Linked DNA regions of Homo sapiens. The protein of the gene in region 2 interacts with the protein of the main gene of each other region in a biochemical or structural test. Each region holds a gene or a part of one and is shown on either strand. Other genes may lie near its edges. The genes, in order: UPF2 and UPF3A.

What was found.
Region 1: the proteins of UPF3A (region 2) and UPF2 form a complex in vitro, tested with the Homo sapiens proteins (2 studies listed by IntAct, with this or other methods).

What each region holds. Positions count from the first base shown.
Region 1 is NC_000010.11:11,920,810-11,927,809, reverse strand, and holds part of UPF2 (regulator of nonsense transcripts 2), read left to right. Parts: intron 1-6,502; coding exon 6,503-6,512; 3' UTR 6,513-7,000. UniProt on the Homo sapiens protein: Involved in nonsense-mediated decay (NMD) of mRNAs containing premature stop codons by associating with the nuclear exon junction complex (EJC).
Region 2 is NC_000013.11:114,282,596-114,298,517, reverse strand, and holds part of UPF3A (regulator of nonsense transcripts 3A), read right to left. Parts: exon of another isoform or gene 15,866-15,922; intron 15,682-15,865; coding exon 15,575-15,681; intron 14,425-15,574; exon of another isoform or gene 14,160-14,424; intron 12,260-14,159; exon of another isoform or gene 12,248-12,259; coding exon of another isoform or gene 12,217-12,247; coding exon 12,118-12,216; intron 12,000-12,117; coding exon 11,889-11,999; intron 11,780-11,888; coding exon of another isoform or gene 11,763-11,779; exon of another isoform or gene 11,206-11,762; coding exon of another isoform or gene 10,982-11,205; exon of another isoform or gene 10,732-10,981; intron 7,030-10,731; coding exon 6,974-7,029; intron 6,918-6,973; coding exon of another isoform or gene 6,885-6,917; coding exon 6,726-6,884; intron 6,720-6,725; exon of another isoform or gene 5,934-6,719; intron 5,848-5,933; exon of another isoform or gene 4,797-5,847; intron 3,168-4,796; coding exon of another isoform or gene 3,066-3,167; exon of another isoform or gene 2,410-3,065; intron 1-2,409. UniProt on the Homo sapiens protein: Involved in nonsense-mediated decay (NMD) of mRNAs containing premature stop codons by associating with the nuclear exon junction complex (EJC) and serving as link between the EJC core and NMD machinery.

The DNA.
Region 1 (7,000 bases), on a different chromosome or scaffold from region 2:
CTCAGATAACTCTAATCAAATTGTAATGTAGAAAACTGGCTTGTCAAGACAGTTTAGAGATCTGTTCTTTAGCATCTGTTGAGTATAATTTAAAAAAAAAATCCAAGTTGGAAATGACCTGTAAACCCATCTAATTAGGCACAATAAGATATTAGGTTATTTTTAATTATCCAAACTTTATTAAAGTCCTTTAATTAAGCCTGTTTTATTGCTGCTAAAATGTGGACACTAGCTAGGTTAACAGGCAATGAAAAATGTTCATTTCCTGCTTTTGCATTTTCTTAGAGTAGCTTTAAATATATGCCACAGTGTTCTTGATAACATCTATTCCCTCCTGTCTCATCATCAGAGACCAAAACTGTTAGAATATTTGTATTTCGGTTGGTAAAAAGTAATGCGGTTTTTGCCAATAAAAGTAATGGGAAAAACTGCAATTACTTTTGCACCAGCATAATATCTTGATGTTTTCCATCATCTTCACCTGTTCATATTGCAGCCTAACGTCTCTGAATAGCACGTTTTTATTAATCCCTAACCCCCTCACAATTCATGTATCGCAAGTATAGTGTCTTAGTAATTTGTGTAGACTCACTATGGAGTTGGATGACATAAGGGGCATCCAGTAGGATTTGCCTCCCTCCGTGTACACTCATCCAGGACTGCACTGTGGAAGATGGAGTACAAGACAGGGTCTTTACCTGCACGGTTGTGGTCCAGTAGGGAAGCCGAGTATGGGTACTTGAAAGATAATTCCACCCTCTTCATTTGTCTGTTTCAAAAACCTTGGGTGAGAGTCTGTTAAGGACCAGGCAGGAGATATGTAAGCATGTGTGTGCTGTCATCGACGTGAGCATGTGTGTGCTGTCATCGACGTGCGTGTGAACAGAGGTAAGCCTTTCTTAACCTGGTTACCGGTGTTAGTCACTTTGCAGAGTTCCTTCACTTTCTATTTTCCCTTCCTCCCTCCAATTCCTCCTTGGAAGAATCGGCTACACTTGCCCCTTCTTCCTTGCTCCCACTTGGGTGGCTTACCCCTGCCAAGTCACAGCTGGCAGTGGGAGGCATTGCCCACCCCAGTGGCTATGCTAGAAAAGAGGTTCATTATTGACTCCTGTCACCTTCTCAGTCCCTAGGTCTAGGCAGCTTCTGCCATCACTGGCATCCCCACCTGCCATCTCTTGGCCTCATCTCAGCAGCACTTTGCATTGTAGGCCCTCCTTGTTCTCCCAACAGACCCTTCCTTGGCATCTGTGATTCTGCTGGCTTCTGGGTTTTCCCTTCCCGCGATCACTGTGGCTCCTGCTGCTGACACTGCCTCCTTTCTGCGCTTCCCTGCCTAGGGATGTCTGTGTTCCTTGGGCTCAGCCTGGGCCCTCTTCTCCTTCTGCACTCTCAAAGGAGGTGTCATCCCTCCCAGTGGCCTGACTTCCATCCAGGTCTCCAGCCCAGATCTCACATTTTCATTTCTGACTTTCCACCCCACTGTGACTCAGAGATGGAAGACTCGTGCCCCTGCCCCAGACTCCTCTTCCCCAGGGTCTCCAGTGCAGGGAGAGGAAGCGTTGTCTGCCCTCTTGTCCACAAAAGAAAAGGAAGTTGTGTTATTGACAGCTCCTCCTCCCTCAATCCCTAAATGTAGTTCATTAGCAAATCCTCTGCATTCTGCTCCCAAATGGCCCTCACTCTTGCCTTTTCTATTCTCTGCCCATAGCCAAGACCATGGGTCAAGCCACCATCACCTCTTGCCTGGATTGCTGTTGCTGCCTCAGCCTCCTCATCAGCCTCTCCGTCTCAACCTTCAACCCTTTCCAATTCATTCTCCCGCTATAGACCCAGTGTTCTTTCTAAAACACAAATTTGATATCTGTGTGTGCCCTTCTGCTTAAAATCATCCAATGGCTCCTCGTGGCTTGTAGGATAAAAAGTCTAAACTCCTCAACTTGGTTCCCAAGGCCCTGTGGTGCAGGTGGACATACATTACTGGCTTCATCTCCTGCTGTTCTTTCTCCTGCTGCAGCCTAGCTGACCTTTAGTTCTGTGTTCTTTTTGCCTCCTCTGTGTGGAACAGTCTCCAGCTGTTCCCCTGGAGAACTCCTGCTCCTTCGGGTCCTGCCTTGGTGTTCCTGAGTCTGACATAGGTCAGTGCGGATCTGCTGCCATGACTTATGGTATTTCTGCAGACCTTGTCCTCCTTAAGTGCCGCTTAGCTTGTCTCTATTCCCCATGAGATTACAGGCGATGAGGGCTGGGACCAAGTCTCATGTTGTTTCCATTCTGTCTCCTTCACAGCTCTTGGTGCCTGGCACCTAGTAGGTGCTCAGTAAATATTTGGTGAATGGACAAAAGAACTTTTCACAGTCTGTGTTCAGTCACTGAATAAACGTTCTCATTCCAGTTCTGCTCCCTAGCTCTTCCCTCTGTTTTTCTTTTTTGTAAGAGTCCTAGCTTTTGAGCTAGCCACTCAACCTGTTTTAAGATCTTTTCTTAAAATAGCACCTTAAAAAAAGAAAACCTAACTTGTCCATCAGTCTTAAGAATAGCACTCTGTAAAGTATCACGAATGGAATTTTTATAGTCAATGCTCCTAAAGTATAGGTGCGATAAACATGGTAGATGAACAAACATGGAAACATGAGATTTTACCCTTTAGAGGACCAGATGTTCTTTGCCTTTTTTAAAATTTACATTTTAAGGCTGGTTGTGATGGCTCATACCTGTATCCCAGCACTTTGGGGGGCCGAGGAAGGCAGATCACCTGAGGTCAGGAGTTCGAGACCAGCCTGACCAACATGGTGAAACCCCGTCTCTACTAAAATTAGAAAAATTAGCCGGTCATGGTGGCGGGCACCTATAATCCCAGCTACTCGGGAGTCTGAGGCAGGAGAATCACTCGAACCTGGGAGGTGAGGTTGCAGTGAGCCAAGATTGCGCCATTGCACTCCAGCCTGGGCAACAAGAGCGAAACTCTATTAAAAAAAATCAGTTATTAATATTAGTAATGTTATACAGCAGATAAAGGGAAATTTATTTGGAAACTGATTATAAAGTAGTTTAGGTCTAGGAGCAGTGGCTCACGCCTGTAATCTCAGCACTTTGGGAGGTCGAGGTGGAAGGATCGCTTGAGCCCAGGAGGCAGAGACTGCCAGATCACACCACTGCACTCCAGGTTGGGCGACAGAGCCAGACCCTGTCTCAAAAAAAAAAGTAGTTTAAAAAAAAGATTTTTTTTTTTGAGACGACATGTTGCTCTGTTACCCAGGCTGGAGTGCAGTGACACAATCTCAGTTCAGTGCACCCTCCACCTCCTGGGTTCAAGTGATTCTTCTGTTAGCCTCCCGAGTGGCTGGGATTACAGGTATGCAGTCCACCACTCTTGACTAATTTTTGTATTTTTAATAGAGACATGGTTTCGCCATGTTGGCCAGGCTGGTCTTGAACTCCTGACCTCAGGTGATCTGCCTGCCTGGACCTCCCAAAGTGCTGGGATTATAGGTGTCAGCCACCACGCCCGGCATAAACTATTTTTCTCCTGTAGCTTTTGATGGACTCCCAGATTTTAATTTGTATTTGTATATTTTCTAACCAGGAGATCCTTGAAATAAGGACATAAATTAAAATTTCAGCCCTTTAACAAATAAGAGGCATTTGCTTACAATGAGTTGAAACGGCAGCAGTGCTGTAAGTAAAACTATTATGTAGGGTTTTCTGTATTGCAGAACAAGGTTGTTTTTCTAATACACTAGTATTGAAAATCTGTGAAACTTAACATTTTTGGCAAGTGTTAATACTTACATGGCTTAGATGGTACTAATTCATATGGGTTATTTCAATGCTTCTCAAACTTTAAAATACGTATTAACTCTCTAGACTCTTACTAAAAAGCAAGTTCTGATTAGTTTCTTTTATTATTATTTTTTAATTATTGTGGAAAGCTTCACGAATTTGTGTGTCATTCTTTTTTGTTGTTTTTTGAGATGGAGTCTTGTTCTGTTGCCCAGGCTGGAGTGCAGTGCCGGGATCTCGGCTCACTGCAACCTCTGCCTCCCGAGTTCAAGCAATTCTTGTGCCTCAGCCTCCCAAGTAGCTGTGATTACAGGCATGTGCCACCACGCCCAGCTAATTTTTTTTTTTTTTTTTTTGAGATGGGGTCTCGCTATATCGGAGTGCAGTGGCGTGATCTCTGCTCACTGCAACCTCCGCCTCCCGGGTTCAAGCAATTCTCTGCCTCAGCCTCCCGAGTAGCTGGGATTACAGGCACCTGCCACCACACCTGGCTAATTTTTGTATTTCTAGTAGAGACGGGGTTTCACCATCTTGGCCAGGCTGGTCTTGAACTCCTGACCTCATGATCCACCCTCCTCGGCCTCCCAAAGTGCTGGGATTACAGGCATGAGCCACCGCGCCCAGCCAAATTTTTGTATTTTTAGTAGAGATGAGGTCTCACCATGTTGGCCAGGCTGGTCTCCAAAACTCCTGACCTCAAGTGATCTGCCTGCGTTAGCCTCCCAAAGTGCTGAGGGTACAGGCGTGAGCCACTGCACCCCACCTGCATGTCATCCTTGCACAGGGCCATGCTAGTCTTCTCTGTATCACTACAATTTTTAGTATATGTGCTGCTGAAGTGAGCACAACAAGCTCTGGTTACTTTTAAACAAGATCTCCAGTGATGTCAAAACTGCTGGTGTGTGGCCTACACTTAGCGGCATAGGAGTATACTATCTGACTTTTAAACCCATCTTTTTAAAAATGATTTTGTTGTTGTTTTATTTTGTTTTTGAGACAGGTTCTTGCTCTGTCACCCAGGCTGGAGTACAGTGGCGTGATCACAGGTCACCGCAGCCTCGACCTCCTGGGCTCAAGCAGTCCTGCCTCAGCCTCTCAGTATCTGGGACTATAGGCACACACCACTACAAATGGCTAATTTTTTTTATTTTTAGTGGAGTCGAGGTCTCACTATGTTGCCCAGGCTGATATTGAACTCTTGTAAACCTATCTTAAGTAGAGTCTGCATTTTTTCATCAGATTTTTTTTTTATATATCTTTATGTAAGGTTAAATTAGTGATAGTTTTGTTATACAATAGAGTCCATTGTAGAATTGCATTTAATCCAAAGTGTATATTGTATTAATAAACAGTTTTTGAGCTGATAGATTTTTGAGTCACTCAGAATGATTGTTTGCTTATAAACCAGTCAAATGACACCTTACACTATAACTAGTGATATAACTATACCTTACTTAGCAAAGATTTTGAACATTTTTTTCCTGTCATTTACTGCATTTATTTAAAGTATTCTAGGTTAGATAGCTGCCTTTTCTTGACTTCAGGAGAGATGCTTGAATCTTCTCTTTCATTCCCTCAGGGAATACTTGTGTTCTTTCCATCAGTTCATTTCTGGAAGAGTTACGGATCTTATCCAGCTGAGGATATACTTTTCCATATTTGCATCTTAACGCTTTGAAAGTTTCTTGCTAAGGTAGCTTGCTCTGTAAGAAACAAACTGTTCATCTGCTTGGGCTGCCATGACAAAATATTACAGCCCTAGTAGCTTAAACGACAGATGTCTGTTGTCTCGCAGCACTGGAGGCCGCCGGCAGGAAACCTGAGGTCAGGGAGTCAGCGGGGCTGGTTCCTTCTGAGGCCTGGAGGAAGACTGCTCCAGGCCTGCCTTCTACTGCTGGGGGTGCCGGCAGTCTTTGGCTTCCATACCTTGTCATACCTCACCCTGGTCTCCGCCTTTGTCTTCACGTGGCCTTTTCCCCCTGTGTGTGTCTGTGTGCAAATTTCCCTTTTTATAGAGATGCAGTCATATGGGATTAGGGCTCCACCCTGCTCCAGTATGGCCTTATCTGAAGTAATTACGTCTACAGCAACCTTGTTTCCAAATACGGTCACATTCTGAGGTCCTGCAGTTCAGTGTTAACATGTGAATTTTGGGGATACACAACTGAACCATAACACAAACTGTGAATTCTTAGCACCTTAAGAATAAGTTGTAGAAGAGAACAGAGCCACTCCTCCAGCCATTGCTCCAATGGCTCTGGTTAAGTTGTAGCTCAGTAGAGAGCATGAATGCTCTCAAAAAAGCACTACAGTTGTCCTCGGTATCCACAGGGGGTTGCTTCCTGGATCCCCTCAGACACCAAAATGCACAGACATTCAAGTCCCTGGTAAAAAATGGTGTAGCATTTATGTATAACATATGCACATCCTCCCGTGTACTTTACATCATCTCTACATTACTTGTAATACCTAATAAAGTGTAGATGCTATGGAGATAGTTGATATACTGTATTGTTTTTAATATTTATGTTATTTTTTATTGTTTGGGTTTTTTTCCCCCGAATATTTTTGGTCCATGGATGTGGAACCCGCAGATGCCAGGGCCACCTGTAACTTGGGGGAGTGACTTGGTGGTGGTGGGTAGCGTTGCAGACGCCATCTTGCTGGACTTTGTCCTGTGGCAGTAAGCTCTCTGATGTGACCCTGTTTGTTCCTTTAGGAGACGTTGATCCAGCAGCACGTGTCATTTCATTAGGTCCTGTATCTGATGTTGTGGTTAGTGGAGTCCTCCAGCAATTGAATGAGAGCAGTGGACACATCTCAGCAGGTCGGTCTAGAGAGTTGCGAATCTAAACCTGGGACAGGCTGGGGCCAGGAGGCAGAAACACCAGCCTCTGCCAACACCGGAACAAGCCGACGCTTCCAGACAAGGCGGAAAAGGCCTTTTGTAATGGAAATCTCGCGAGGGTTAATCTTCTCTTGAGAATGGCAGTCAAGAAATGAGATGGTTCACTTGACTACTGAGCAGTTACACCAAGGAGAGCGTGAAGGAGATGATTGAGCCAGAGAAGAAACGGGTTGTGATGGTAATGGTGTGGGGGAAATGAACTTGAGCTTTAAACTTGATTTGAGTTTCAGTGTCTCTGAATTGAACATCCCACGTTGGAAGAAGATACATTTGGGGGCTCCAGGACTACAGTAGAAAAGTATAGAGCAA
Region 2 (15,922 bases):
CCCAGGCTGAAGTGCCGTGGCGCACTCCCGGCTCACTGCAGCCTCCGCCTCCAAGGTTCAAGTGATTCTCCTGCCTCCACCTCCTGAGTAGCTGGGACGACAGGCATGCGCCACCATACCCGTCTAATTTTTTTTTTTTTTTTTGAGATGGAGTTTCACTCTTGTTGCCCAGGCTGGAGTGCAATGGCACGATCTTGGCTCACTGCAACCTCCTCCTCCCGGGTTCAAGTGATTCTCCTGTCTCAGCCTCCCAAGTAGCTGGGATTACAGGCGCCCACCACCACGCTCAGCTAATTTTTTGTATTTTTAGTAGAGACGGGGTTTCAGTATGTCGGCCAGGCTGATCTCAAACCCCTGACCTCAGGCAATCCACCCACCCTGGCCTCCCAAAGTGCTGGGATTATGGGCGTGAGCCACCGTGCCCAGCCCCCACTTCTATTTATGTTCACACACACACCACCACCTAAAGGGCTCTGCAGCACTGTATTAATAGTGATTATTTCCTTTTTTGAGATGGAGTCTCGCTCTGTCGTCCAGGTTGGAGTGCAGTGGTGCAGTCTCGGCTCACTGCAACCTCCGTCTCCTGGGTTCAAGCGACTCTACTGCCTCAGCCTCCTGAATAGCCAGGACTACAGGGGCGTGCCACCACACCTGGCTAACTTTTGTAGTTTTTGTTTGTTGTTTTTTTTGAGACGACGTCTCACTCTGTCACCCAGGCTGGGGTGCAGTGGCTTGATCTCAGCTAACTGCAACCTCTGCCACCCTGGTTCAAGCAATTCTCCTGCCTCAGCCTCTCAAGTAGCTGGGATTACAGGCTCCTGCCACCGTGCCTGGCTAATTTTTGTATTTTTAGTAGAGATGGGATTTCATCATGTTGGCCAGGCTGGTCTTGAACTCCTGACCTGTGATCCCCCAGCGTTGGCCTCCCAAAGTGCTGGGATTACAGGCATGAGCCACCATGCCCGGCCAATAGTGATTATTTCTAGATGGCAGAACTGAAATGACTTTATTTCCTTTCATCTATAGGGTCTAGTTTTCCTGACATAGACAAGTATTAGTTTTGTAATAAGGAAAAAAAAATTTTTAAAAGGCTGCTTCCTACTGATGATTTTTAGAATAGTTTATAGTTTTCAAAACACTGATTATTCTCTTTCCTGAAACAGAATTAATGAACAAGTCGCCACGACATATTTCATCTGCCCTGTATGCCCCTGGCCTTTCTCCCTGCTCTCTGTATAGTTTTTGAAACTAAAGCACCTCAGCTAACTTGAGAAAAGGGAGAAAAAAAAAAAAAACGGAAGCACCACAGACAGATCATTTGTAGAACAGAAATGGAAGGTGTACATCTGAGAATTCTGTTCTCACTCATAATTGCAGCATAGCAAGACCATACACAGATGCATTCAATCACACGTGTTCACTTGGGAACACAACGCATCATGCAAGGTGGAGCATTGGAAGCCGCTTCTCATCAAGCGTGGGCCCCATGTCAGCTGTGAACATCCTCTTATTCTGCCTATGTGGAATCTGGGAACTTAAACATTTCCTTTCTGGTAACTGCCCATCTTTTATAAAAATTGCAACAGTAACATGTCTGTAATAAATGTGAACCATAGGAAGTGCAAATCTCCATCCACCCATTCAACAAATATTCTGTGTGCCTAGGAACTGTTCTTACATTTCTGACACTGCACGTCTTTTTCAATACCACCCCTCCGACACCAGCTGCGTGCTCCACATTCAACTCAACTCTGAGATCATCGACCTGGAGTTAGCACCAGAACCCACGGGTCAAGGGCTCAGTCCCACAAGACTGCCCCCCTTTCAGACGACAGTTCCAAGTCCCAGTGTGTCACCGGTACTTCTGACCAGTCAGCAATAAATTCAGGGGTTCCCGATGGCCTCTCCTCAGATTTGGTAAGTTGCTGAAATGGCTCACAGAACTCAGAAAGGCACTGTTTTCTCGATTATTGGCTAATCATAAAGGATACAACCCAGAACAGCCAAACGGAAAAAATGCACAAGGTGGGTATGGGGTATGGTGTAGTGGTACTTGGAGCTTCCATGCAGTAACCCTCCCAGCACCTTGATGTGCTCACCAACCCGGAAGGCCCGTCTATTTTTTTTATTTTTTTTGAGATGGAGTCTTGCTCTGTCACCCAAGCTAGACTGCAGTGACGCGATCTCGGCTCACTGTACCTTCGCCTCCTGGGTTCAAGCGATTCTTCTGCCTCAGCCTCCTGAGTAACTGGGACTACAGGCATGCGCCACCATGCCTGGCTAATTTTTGTATTTTTAGTAGAGACGGGGTTTCACCATATTAGCCAGGCTGGTCTCAAACTCCTGACCTCGGGATCCACCTGCCTTGGCCCCCCAAAGAGCTGGGATTACAGGCGTGAGCCACTGTGCCTGGCCCCTGGAAGCCCTGTCTTTAGGCATTATTAAGGTTTCATTATGTAGGTGTGACTGATTAAGTCACTGGCCACCGGTGACCTCTCTCTAGGCCCTCTGCCCTCTCGGAGGCTAGGGTGGGACTGAAAGTCCCAACCCTCTAGTCCTGCCTTGGCTTTCTGGCCAACTAGTCCCCATCCTGAAGCTGCCTGGGGCCCCCAGCCCCTAGTCCTCTCATTGGCATATAAGACACTCATATTACTGCAGATTCCCGAGGTCTGAGGAGCTGTGTGCAGGAACCAGGGCCTAAGACCCTGTGCTAGGCACTAGGGAATGGCTGTGAATGAGACAAGAGGTGCCCCTGCCTCGAAGGAACTTGCGCCTGATGCACCACCTGAGGCAACGGTGGTCAAGGGGGAATGCTGTGAACAGTGGCAAAAATATGAAAAAGGAAACAAAGGAATAAGATAACCTCAGGTAGCATCAAAAGCTACGAACAGACATGAAGGGAGAGTAAAGCATCAGAGACGCAGGAAGAGGAGGGCCCAGGAGGGCTCTCTGCAGAGCCAAGACGGGAACTAAGACCAGATGCCAAGAAGGAGCCACGGGCACATCTGGGGAAGTCCCTGTGGAGGGAAACGTGCGGAGTCCTGAGGTGGAATCCGCTGGTGCATTCATGAGAAACCAGCAGGCCAGAGCCGCTGGAGACGAGCTGGGGAGCACGCCAGAGCCGCTGGAGACGAGCTGGGGAGCACGCCAGAGCCGCTGGAGACGAGCTGGGGAGCAGGCCAGAGCTGCTGGAGACGAGCTGGGGAGCAGGCCAGCTCTGCCACGCCCTGCAAGGCTTCCGGAGGCCAAGCGGAGCGCATGGGCAGCTGTGCTCCCTCCCAGCCCTCGCCTGTGTGTGTTCACCCATGTGGCCACACATAAGCTCACTGCTTAGCATCCTCAGAGGAACATTAAACAGCTGAGCTGTTCTGTGTGCCGTATTTCTTTTCTTTTTTTTTTTTTTTTTGAGACGGAGTCTTGCTCTGTCGCCCAGGCTGGAGTGCAGTGGCGCAATCTTGGCTCACTGCAAGCTCCGCCTCCCGGGTTCATGCCATTCTCCTGCCTCAGCCTTCCAAGTAGCTGGGACTACAGGCTCCCGCCACCACGCCCAGCTAATTTTTTGTATTTTTAGTAGAGATAGGGTTTCACCGTGTTAGCCAGGATGGTCTCGATCTCCTGACCTAATGATCCGCCCACCTCGGCCTCCCAAAGTGCCAGGATTACAGGTGTGAGCCACCGCGGTCCAGCCTTTTTGAGACGGAGTCTCGCTCTGTCGCCCAGGCTGGAGTGCAGTGGCGTGATCTCAGCTCACTGCAACCTCTGCCTCCCAGGTTCAAGCGATTCTCCTGCCTCAGCCTCCTGAGTAGCTGGGACTACAGGCGTGTGCCACCACGCCCAGCTATTTTTTTGTATTTTTAGTAGACATGGGGTTTCACTGTGTTAGCCAGGATGGTCTCGATCTCCTGACCTCGTGATACGCCCGCCTCGGCCTCCCAAACCATATTTCTCTTTATTAAGAATAGCCATGAGTGCTACGCACGGTGGCTCATGCCTCTAACCCCAGCAGTGGGAGGATCACTTCAGCCCAGGAGTTCAAGACCAGCCTGGACAACATAGTGAGACCCCCACTTCTACAAATTTTTTTTTAAATTAGCTATTCAGGTATGATGTTGCACCCCTGTAATGGGAGGCTGAGGCGGGAGGATCACTTGAGCCTGGGAGGTAGAGGCTGCAGTGAGCTGTGACTGTGCCACTACACTCCAGCCTGGGTGACACATTGAGACCCTGTCTCAAACCCCCCCCCCACCAAAACCAAACAAAAAAATAGCAAAATAGCCATGAGCCATCTGTCTTTCTTTAAGCTGTTGATACACCTTCTTTTGCATTTCTCCACAGATTCCATTTTTCAGGCATTAAAAGAATTTCAATTTTCCACATGATTTAGAAGTGAAAGACCCCCATACTGAGCACAGATACTTATTAAAAGCTAAACCAGGCCAGGCATGGTGGCTCACGCCTGTAATCCCCAAACTTTGGGAGGGTGAGGCAGGAAGATCACTTGAGTCCAAGAGTACGAGACCAGCCTGGGCAATATAGTGGGAACCCCATCTCTACAAAAAACAGAAACAGGGTCTCTCTCTGTTGCCCAGGCTGGTCTTGACCTCCTGGGCTAGAGCAATCCACCTGCCCTGGTCTCCCAAAGTCCTGAGATTATAGGAATGAGCCATCATACCCAGCCAACTTTTCTGTTTTTGACTGCTGACCATATCAGAAACAAATCTATGGTTCAATGATCTCTTCCCCACCCTTTCCTAAGCTATCTTCTTTCCCCAAGTCCTGACATTTCATTTTTTTCCTCATATTGTACAATATTATTGAATATAAGGTATTCAATAAATAATAAGTAATGAGTGATACCTTAGGTTCAAATCTAGGTTTAGTACTGAGGAGATAATGGCTGGTCCCAATTCTGGCCAACACATTTCACACAGAGAAAAATTCCCTCTATGTATTAAACCACCCTCATAAATGAATGTATCAGTCACAGAAAAAACTCAGCAAGAAATACAGAAACTCATTAGTGCTACTGCCAAAGAAATGATAAAACCCGGTTCTGAGTCAGCCTTCACACAGAAAGGCAAAACCAGTGGTTTTCAAATGTGTATTTTTTAATCAGGGAAACTTTTTTTTTTTTAAGACAGAGTCTTGCTCTGTTGCCCAGGCTGGAGTGCAGTGGCGCGATCCCGGCTCGCTGCAACCTCCGCCTCCTGGGTTCAAGTGATTCTCCTGCCTCAGCCTCCTGAGTAGCTGGGATTCCAGGCACACGCCACCACGTCCGGCTCATTTTTGTGTTTTTAGTAGAGATGGGGTTTCCCCATATTGGCCAAGCTGGTCTCAAACTCCTGAACTCAAGTAATCCGCCTGCCTCGGTCTCCCAAAGTGCTGAGATTATAGGTGTCAGCCACCCCACCCGGCCAGGAAATTTTTTTTTTTTTTTTTTTTTTTTGAGAGGGAGTCTTGCTCTGTCGCCCAGGCTGGAGTGCAATGGCGCGATCTCGGCTCACTGCAACCTCTGCTCCCTGGGTTCAAGCGATTCTCCTGCCTCAGCCTCCTGAGTAGCTGGGATTAAGGCGTCCGCCACCACACCTGGCTAATTTTTGTATTTTTAGTAGAGACAGGGTTTCACCATGTTAGTCAGGGTGATCTCGAACTCCTGACCTCGTGATCTGCCCGCCTCAGCCTCCCAAAGTGCTGGGAGGAAAACTTTTTTTTAAAGGAAAATGTAGAGGGTGGAGAATGGGAGGAGGGTGAAGACTGAAAAACATCAGGTACTGTGCTGATTACCTGGGCAACAAAATTATCTGCACACCAAACCCCAGTGACACTTGATTTACCCATGTGACACACCTGCACGTGTACGCCTTGAGCCGAAAATGAACACGTAACACACCTGCACGTGTACGCCTTGAACCGAAAATGAACACGTAACACACCTGCACGTGTACGCCTTGAGCCGAAAATGAACACGTAACACACCTGCACGTGTACGCCTTGAACCGAAAATAAACATGTGGCACACCTGCACGTGTACGCCTTGAGCCGAAAATGAACACGTAACACACCTGCACGTGTACGCCTTGAACCGAAAATGAACATGTGGCACACCTGCACGTGTAAGCCTTGAGCCGAAAATGAACACGTAACACACCTGCACGTGTACGCCTTGAGCCGAAAATGAACATGTGACACATCTGCACGTGTACGCCTTGAGTCGAAAATGAACACGTAACACACCTGCACGTGTACGCCTTGAGCTGAAAATGAACATGTGACACATCTGCACGTGTACGCCTTGAGTCGAAAATGAACACGTAACACACCTGCACGTGTACGCGTTGAGCTGACAATGAACATGTAACACACCTGCACATGTACGCCTTGAGCCGAAAATGAAAGTTGGAAAGTTTAAAAAAAAAAAAAAAAAAAAGAGCGTCAGCAGCAGCCCAACGTGTGCCAGCGTGGGGCTCCTGTGGGGTGTGCTCCCCACTGCACACCCAGGAGGACAGGCACCCAACAGCAGCCTGAGGACTCCCAGGGCTCAGGACGCACTGTGATAACCACTGCTGTAGGATGGAAAGAAAGATGGAAAAGATGGAAAAAAATAACAACACAATATTAGATTAATTCAGAATGTTTTCAAAATTCTAAAGAACTAAGATATGTAAAAAGTGTAATTACTATAGCAGAGCTATTTTTGGAAAAAGGAAATGTTTCCTCAGAATTACCTTAATCCTTACTTCTTTCTCTGCAATTTTCTTCTGTTTATCTGTCTCTTTTTTTTTGCATCTTTCTTCTTCTCTTCTTCTTCTTTTTTCCTCTTCCCGCAAACGTTTCTTTTCTAACTCTCTCCTCCTCCGTTCTTCTCGCTTCTCTTCTCGAATTCTCTAAAGACATGGAAGAGCGTGTGTATAAACTGCCTGGATGAGAATGGCAGAAGCAGGGAGGGTGTTCATCAGGTAAAGGCCAGACCTACCTGCTTTTCTAATTTTCTATTTTTAATATATTCCAAAAGAGGTGTGGTTCTTCTAGCTAAAACACAAAAATTGTAATATTGTATTTAACTCCTAAAGAAAGATGTATTTTAAATACTTGTTTTGAATGTAATCTTTAAAATAAATACGGGAACCATATCATTACTTTTTAAATTTACACACTGTCTCCAGGGGAGTTTTTATTCCATTACTGTCAGGTCAAGTAATTTGAAAGTATCAACAATTTCATACATAGTAGACATCTAATTCCTGATTCTTAAGGGAGGCTTAAAATATTCCAAGATGATATTTTTGTAGGTGCCTTAAATCATTAAATAACATATATTTATTTTGATACATCGCATATTCTGAGAACTTTTTCGTTTTCCGTTCTCCAAGCAACAGTTTTAAAATAACATGGATTCTTGTAATGTCTTACAATATATACTCCATAAAATCCCAATGATAAGACATACAACTCTGGATTGTAGTTTAGAAAATGACTCCACATGGGCCGGGCGTGGTGGCTCACACATGTAATCTCAGCACTTTGGGAGGCCAAGGCGGGCAGATCACCTTAGATTGGGAATTCGAGACCAGCCTGACCAACCTAAGGAAACCCCGTCTCTACTGAAAAAATACAAAATTAGCCGGGCGTGATGGCACGCGCCTATAATCCCAGCTACTCGGGAGGCTGAGGCAGGAAAACTACTTGAACACGGGAGGAGGAGGTTGCAGTGAGCCGAGATTGCGCCACTGCACTCCAGCCTGGGCAACAACAGCGAAACTCTGCCTCAAAAAAAAAAAAAAAAGAAAAAAAAGAAAAGAAAAAGAAAATGACTCCATATGGCGCTGCTGATTGCAGAAAAGGCACCAACTACTAGGGAATGAACATTTCTACAGACTCTATCTTGGTCCTTCGCTTTCATGCCCGACCTCTCAGATCTGACCTGGATGTGGGTGCCCAGGCAAGCTAGAGGCCCCACAGGCCCCACCTCAGAGGGACTTGCGCTGACATGGACAGGCCCCACATCCCACCAACACAAGGACACAAATGGGAAGGGGGAAGACGGGGTCTACTCTGTGGGTCTGTAAGATCTCAGACTAAACAGGGCTGGGAAGAATCCCTGGATGTACCTGAAAACTGACACATCATCTCTGGAATTCTGAGGACCAGGAATGAATCAGGAATCATAGGAGAAGCCCTGGCCAGGGATCCATCACTTGGAACTGAGAACCCCTGACACCCTGACATCATAGATGAAATGGCACCTGTCCCAGAAGCCCTTCCCCAGGGACAGTCTGTGGTTGTAGGGAAGAGCCGATTGTCCCAGGAGCCCTGCCCCAGGCACAGTGGTTGTAGGGAAGAGCTGATGCAGGTACAAATGCCACATTTCGTGGCAGACACAGTTGCCACAGAGAACACTCCCCCAGGGGTCCCTGGGCTGACCATGAACTCTGGCTCAGGGTGAGTACAGCACACTGGCTCAGGTAAATGGTCAGCTCTTTGTAATGGGCAAATTATCTCAAATCAGCCAGGGTTCTGCTCTGCTCTGTGGAAAGCCTGAACTTGTCAGCCAGGAGCCGGGCGAGACCACCTGGATGTGTGGGGAGGCTGACCCCAGACTCCGCTTGCCCACCTTCCTCTTCCTATAAAATGTCTGCCCTATCACCCACAGGGATCACGGGCAAAGTACGTTAGACCCTGAATAAGAAAGTGTTCTACACATCATAAAAGTATGTTATTTATCAGACAGAATACGCACAACCATGCAACAGAACACAAGTAAACAGAAGTCTCAGAGCTGAACCCAGGCCTGTCTGCTCTAAAGGCCGATGCTAAAGGCCGATGCACCAGACTAACTCAACAACTCCAGAGTCCTTGCCAGAAACAGCTTATTAGTATTTCCATTTAACACTTGCTTCTCAGACCTGTGCAGAAGAATCCACTGGAGGCCAAAAGCTTAGAAAAGAAAAAGGTAATCTGCCATGAATTGCCTAAAATTTTTTTTTTTTTTTTTTTTGAGATGGAGTCTTACTTTGTCGCCAGGCTGGAGTGCAGTGGCGTGGTCTTGGCTCACTGTAACCTCCGCCTGCCGAGTTCAAGCGATTCTCCTGCCTCAGCCTCCCAAGTAGCTGGGACTACAGGCGCATGCTACCACGCCCAGCTAATTTTTGTATTTTTAGTAAAAACGGGGTTTCACCATGTTGGCCAGAAAGGTCTCAATCTCTTGACCTCATGATCTGCCCGCCTCAGCCTCCTAAAATGCTGGGATTACAGGTGTGAGCCACCGCACCCGGCCAAGTTTCAATTTTTCATACATAGAAACAGCAATCACAGAAACAAGGAAGACTCTACAGCCAAGTCCTGGAATGAATTAATCGCTCCCATCAGGGATGGTGGGTTCTAAGCCACATTCATTCATTCATTCAGCCAACTTTTGTGAAGCATTGGCTGTGCAGCAGACTCTCGGGGAGGTGCCAGGACATGCCCCCCTCTCCCCACCCCGGCAGGAGCCACGTGTCTGCCCCAAAAAGGTATGTCTCAAAACAGCCCTAAAGTGACCGATCCTTTGCAAGGGGACATTTAAAACAAAGTGAGATGGAAATGGGAGGGGCAGGGAGATGAGGCCTGTAATAACGTCTAATTTGCTGCTTCTAGCTCTTCTTCAATTTATCAAGTTCTTAAGTGAAATCTCGACTTTGCCCCCAATACTGTCCTACCCTCATGTTCCCTTGTGTATAATGGTGCCACAATCCACCCATCTGTTCAAGCCAAGCACTGGAGTCTTAATTCTTCCTGTCCCCTTACCTCCCACACCCTATCCGTCTGTCGGTCCTGTCCAGCCCACCTCCAAAACACACGCTCATCTCTTGGCATCCACAGTCTATCCCATGTGACACCACCAAAGTGACGGGGACAAATAATCAGACCATGCTACTCCCCCAGTGGCTTCCAGTTGCCCTGGAATGAATCTAAATGTCTTGCAGTGCCCTGAACCTCCAACCACGCTGCCCTCACCCATGTGTGCCAACCCCACAAGCCTGCACTCTGCGCCTGCAGTGAAAAGCGACAGCAGCCGGCCCTGCCCCTGGCGCTTCCTTCCTCCACTGCTCAGCACGGCCAGGCTCAGCTCATCTCCTGACCTCTTTCCCTCCCGCAGCCAGTCTCAGCTCCAGCTCCACCACTATCTTGGAGGGAGTCTCCCAACCTCTTTCCCTCCCATATTCCACTTTGTCACATCAGTGGCAGTGATTACACACTGAGGTGCCCTGGTTGGACTATTCCTGCTCCTGCTTCCAACCTGTCATCCCGATGGTAGGCAGAGGCCTTGTGCAACCTGCTTACCACTTGGCCCCATGCTGAGGCCCAGAGTCAGTGCCCAGGCAGCATGCAGCCTCAGCATATTTTGTTTACTTTAGTGATCAAAAGCCTTATTACGGCTAGGTGTGGTGGCTCACGCCTGTAATCCCAGTACTTTGGGAGGCTGAGGCAGGCGGATCATCTGAGATCAGGAGTTCAAGACCAGCCTGGCCAACATGGTGAAACCCATCTCCACAAAAATATAAAAATTAGCTGGGCATGATGGCGGGTGCCTGTAATCCCAGCTACTCAGGAGGCTGAGGCAGAAGAATGGCCTGAACTGGGAAGGCAGAGGTTGCAGTGAGCCGAGATTGTGCCACCGCACTCCAGCCTGGGCAACAGAGTGGGGGGAAAAAAAGCTTTATTACTAGATAAATGAAGAAAGTGAACGGACTATTTCAGTAATATTAATCTTTTTTTATTAATTCAATCAACATCTACTAAATTCCTGAACTTTTCTACAACCATGAAGATGAAAATATAGTTCCACTGGGGAGACAAAACAAGAAGGGAGTTTATGTGGTGGGAGACAGACAGGAAAATAAATGATAAACAATGTGGCTGTCATGTCACATCAATTTTATTGGTTTTTTGAGATGGAGTCTCGCTCTGTCACCAGGCTGGAGTGCAGTGGTGCGATCTCAGCTCACTGCAACCTCCGCCTTCTGGGTTCAAGCGATTCTCCTGCCTCAGCCTCCTCAGTAGCTGGAACTATAGGCACGCACCACCATGCCCTGCTAATTTTTTGTATCTTTAGTAGAGATGGGGTTTCACCATGTCGGCCAGGCTGATCTCGAAGTCCTGACCTTGTGATCCGCCCACCCTGGCCTCCCAAAGTACATCCATCTTGATGGGTGGGCAGGGCACAGCCTGGGCGGGAGAGATGAGAGGTGAAGAACCAGGGCTTTGAGGAAAGGAGATCCACAGAGAAGAGAAACACTACCAGGTGTGTCTGGGACTAAACAACAACAGTTTGCCTGATTTTCATGTTGGTGCTACTGGGAAGTATGTTGGTGCTACTGGGAAGTAACTATTTCTAAAGTACACCACTTGTGGGCATGGGGTGGAAGGCTGGATTTAAACTCGATTCTGTGCTCTGGCTGGGCTTATCCACAAGTTGGCCTGGCTCGGGGAGCCTGGCATTTGTGTTGAAGCAGCAAGATGACCTCACCGCAAGCAAAACATCTCATTCCTATGGGCTCTTGAGGCATCCGTCTGTGACCACTGACTTCAACTATGTGACACAACATGCCTTCCCTGACGCTCAGGAACAGACCATTCATGTGTCTTCTGCACTGCTCATTCGGAAGCATCATAACTTAAAATGATCTTAACTAAAAAAATCACGTGCTCTCCATCAACCAACGCTCAGAAATATTTTCCCATGCTGCCATCTTGCCATTCTTTTGTCAAAACTGGAAATCACTCTACATTTCTGTCAAGCCTGTAACAAGTTTCAACTTGTTATCACAGTCAAGAAAAAGAGAAAAAACGTATATCCTCTACGAGTAAATCTCTCAATAAAGAAAAGAGAAGAAATGAGCAAAACAGACCAATGAGCTCTCTTGTCTTCGCCTCCATCTCCCCCAGCAGAGTCTCAGGGTTGGCACTGGTCTTCTCTTCCTCCACACAGTAGGTTTCTAAAAACTTCTTATATTCTGGATCTAGACATTAAAAAGTAGGAAGAAAATAAATATAATCTTTCCCAACTACGGGAGAATTACATTTGCTCAGTGTTCTTAATTTGGCAGCTTCATAACGTAGCACTTGGAAAGGGCTCACCATCTTCGATGCTTCCAGTCTTGGCATCTTTTTTTCTCAGCTTCTTTTTGGCTATCTTCTGGAATGGAGCAAACTCTACCACTGCAGGATATTCTAGGCCTTTTAACAGGAAACATGTTCCAGAAGCCATTCTGAAATTCTACTACATTCATTTCGGAAAATAATGACCTAACTTACTTAAAGAGTAAGTGTAACAACGACAATGCATTATTACTATTTAAACTATAATTCATCCTTCCAGTAAGAGATTAAAAAAAAGATTAAAAAACCTACAATTTTATTACACTTTCAAGCACCTGCAACCTTAACACGGCAAACTCCAGACTTAAACAAGGATGAACTCCTGGTAAGAAGAACATTTACTAAAACAATCCATCATGTTGTGGTGGTTGCATAACTGAAGTTGTTCAAAATTCATCAAATTGTTCACTTTAAAAGGGTGACTTTTACCATATGTAACTTACACCTCAATATACCTGACCTCCCCAGCCCCATCCCAAATAATTTATCGTTGGAATACCTTTAAATAATGATTTCTTAGCTACACTTTACATTTTATTTTAAAAGGTTAATTCAACTATCAATTTGTTATTTAAGTTCAAGAAAATTACTTTGCTTAGAAGACACCATGGCTAAAATAGAGGGTTTCAAAGGGTTTATAGAATATTCCAGGTGAAATCTGCTTCTGATAAAAGTAGAGAATGGAAGTCATTAGAAACTAACTTCGTTGCTATGTGGGGGAAAAACAAATACACAAAGAGAAATGTTCACTAAGAGAACCTGCTATATGCTGAATCATCAAATGGAACACTGCTACCTTGGTACTAAACCCACTGAGTCATTTTTTTTTGACTTGTCAGTAATAGTCAGGTGACTGAATTATAATTCCTTTAACTGGGAGATATTTTTGTGCCAACCTCCACTATCCAGAATAAAGTCAAGACTCAGGGGGACGGCAGGGCACTGGACCAGCAGGGACGATGTCCAAGTCACCGCTCCACCCACAAGGCCTAGCACACAGTGGATACTCATTCAATGGCAGATGACATACTCCCTGATTCCAAAGCTGAAAGTAATCAGTGTGGTACTGCCATGTAGACAGACACATCCACCAAGGGAATAAAATAGAGAGCACAGAAATAAACCTTTGTAATACTTGGTCAACTGATTTTTGAAAAGGGTGCCCAGACCATTCAATGGGGAAAAGAAAGTCTTTTCAACAACTGGTGCTGGGAAAACTGGATATCCACAGCCAGAAGAATGAAGCTGGACCCTTACCTAACACCATATACAAAAAGTAACTCGATATGGATCAAACCTAAATATAAGACCTGAAACCATAAAACACTTGGAAAAAAACACAGGGGAAAAGCTCCATGGCAATGGATTTGGCAATGGGTTGCATATGACATCAAAAGCACAGGCTTAGGCCAGAGACCATAAAAACAACGGCAGGGCAGCGGCTCACGCCTGTAGCCCAGCACTTTGGGAGGCCAATGTGGGGGGAATCGCTTGAGCTCAGGAGTTTGACACCAGCCTGGGCAACATAGTGAGACCCCATCTCTAAAAAACAAAACAACGACAACAAAGATAACCGGAAACAAGGACGACTGGCCCCTTGCTCACTACAGGTGGGAACCTAAAATGGCGCAGTCACTGTGGAAAACAGTATGGTATAAATTTTGTGACTTTTTTTTTTTTTGAGACAGAGTCTCACTCTGTCACCAAGGCTACAGTGTAGTAACACGATCTTGGCTCACTGCAACCTCTGCCTCCCGGGTTCAAGTGAGTCTCATGCCTCAGTCTCCCAAGTATCTGAGATTACAGGCATGCCTCATGATGCCTGGCTAATTTTTTTTTTTTTTTAGTAGAGACAGGGTTTCACCATCTTGGCCAGGCTGGTCTCGAACCCCTGACCTCAACTGATCTACATTCCTCGGCCTCCCAAAGTGCTGGGATTACAGGAGTGAGCCATCACACCTGGCCATGTTACACATATTTTACACACACACACACATATACATACACGTACATACACATACATATTTTTTTGCTCCGTCGCCCCGGCTGGGATGCAGTGGCATGATCTCGGCTCACTGCAACCTCCGCCTCCCAGGTTCAAGCAATTCTCCTGTCTCAGTCTTCCGAGTAGCTGGGACTACAGGCGCCTGCCACCATGCCTGGCTAATTTTTGTATTTTTAGTAGAGACAGGGTTTCACGTTGTTGCTCAGGCCGGTCTCGAACTCCTGACCTCGTGATCCACCCGCCTTGGCCTCCTAAAGTGCTGGGATTACAGGTGTGAGCCACTGTGCCCGGCCCACCAATATTTTTTAAGTGAAAAAGGGAAACTCAGTAAGTTACTGAATAAATGAGCAATGAACACAAAGGTCAGTTCAAGCATCACATTTGCTTCTAGTCACAGGAACTAGCTTGGCTAATGCTTATTTTTTTAACAATCTTTCTAGTCCTTACCCCTCATTGGAGAAAAAGAAAACACTCATCAGTGTCAAAACACGTGGAGTCGGAAGAGGGTGGCTGGGGAGGGGAGGGCAGAAAACAACTTGCTGTGAAAGGTATACAAACTTGACAGCCAGGAACACAACAGCAGACAGCCTGACAGGAGAAGAGAAGGAAAAAGATGAAAGCAGAACCCTAGAAGTACTGATAAGGGAACTATTGAGAGTAGAGTTGAAGACTGCTGTCTCCGCAGGCAAAGCTGTTTAACAGCAGTGACTTCCTGGTGACATTATCATAAATGGTACAGTCATGAAGGATGCTGTTTAGGAAGATAGAAGTCAGTGTACATTTTGGAAAATTCCTATCAGGTAAAATAGTTTAGCTTTAGAACCTAAAAAGATCAAGTTCTCTCATGCAACAAACTCACTCATGAAAACCTTCATTCTCTGATGATAATACATAAATAGGCTGTCACTATTACACAGAATTTCTGGAATTTTTTTGGATTAAATAATAAAATTAAATAATTTCAATTTTTAATATCTGCACATAATTACAGTAACATAATCAAAATTTATAAACTTATTTTAGTCTGAGAACTTTTTAATTAAAATGCACAAATAGACCGGATGCTGTGGCTCACGCCTGTAATCCCAGCACTTTGGGAGGCTGAGGTGGGAGGATCACTTGAAGCCAGGAGTTCAAGACCAGCCTGGGCAACACAGTGAGACCCCCGTCTCTACACAATTTTTTTTTTAAATCAGCCGATCATGGTGGCACACGCCTGTGGTCCCTGCTACCTAGGAGGCTGGAGGATTGCTTGAGCCGCAGTGTGAGGCTGCAGTGAGCCGTGATTGCGGCTGCTGCACTCCAGCCTGGGCAACAGAGCAAGACCCTGTCTCAAAAAATAATAATAATTTAAAAAGCACGAATATTCTAGCAATACTTCATTAGTATACCTACAGATTATAATAGATTTTTAAAAACCAATAATCCAACCTTTGCTGTCAAGGAAGATATATCCATCAAAACGATCTCTAAAAAGAAGGATGTCATCAGGATTCCTAAAATTAATGTATGCTCTTGAGTAGAGATGAGGATAAAGACTGAAATAAGAGATAACAGTGAAAATGGTCAGTGAAAAATACAATAGTCCATTAATTTAGCCTCTTTTTCCTTTTCTGGGCACAACAAACTACTTTAGATAAAACTTTTGTGCCAAATCATCTCAGTTAATTGTAACAACTTGGATATTCTTTAGCAAAAACAAACGCAAAACGTTAACTTTACAAGGCAGAACTCAGGTCCCTTCTCCACTGCCCAGAACCGGTCCTCCGAGGCTGAAAC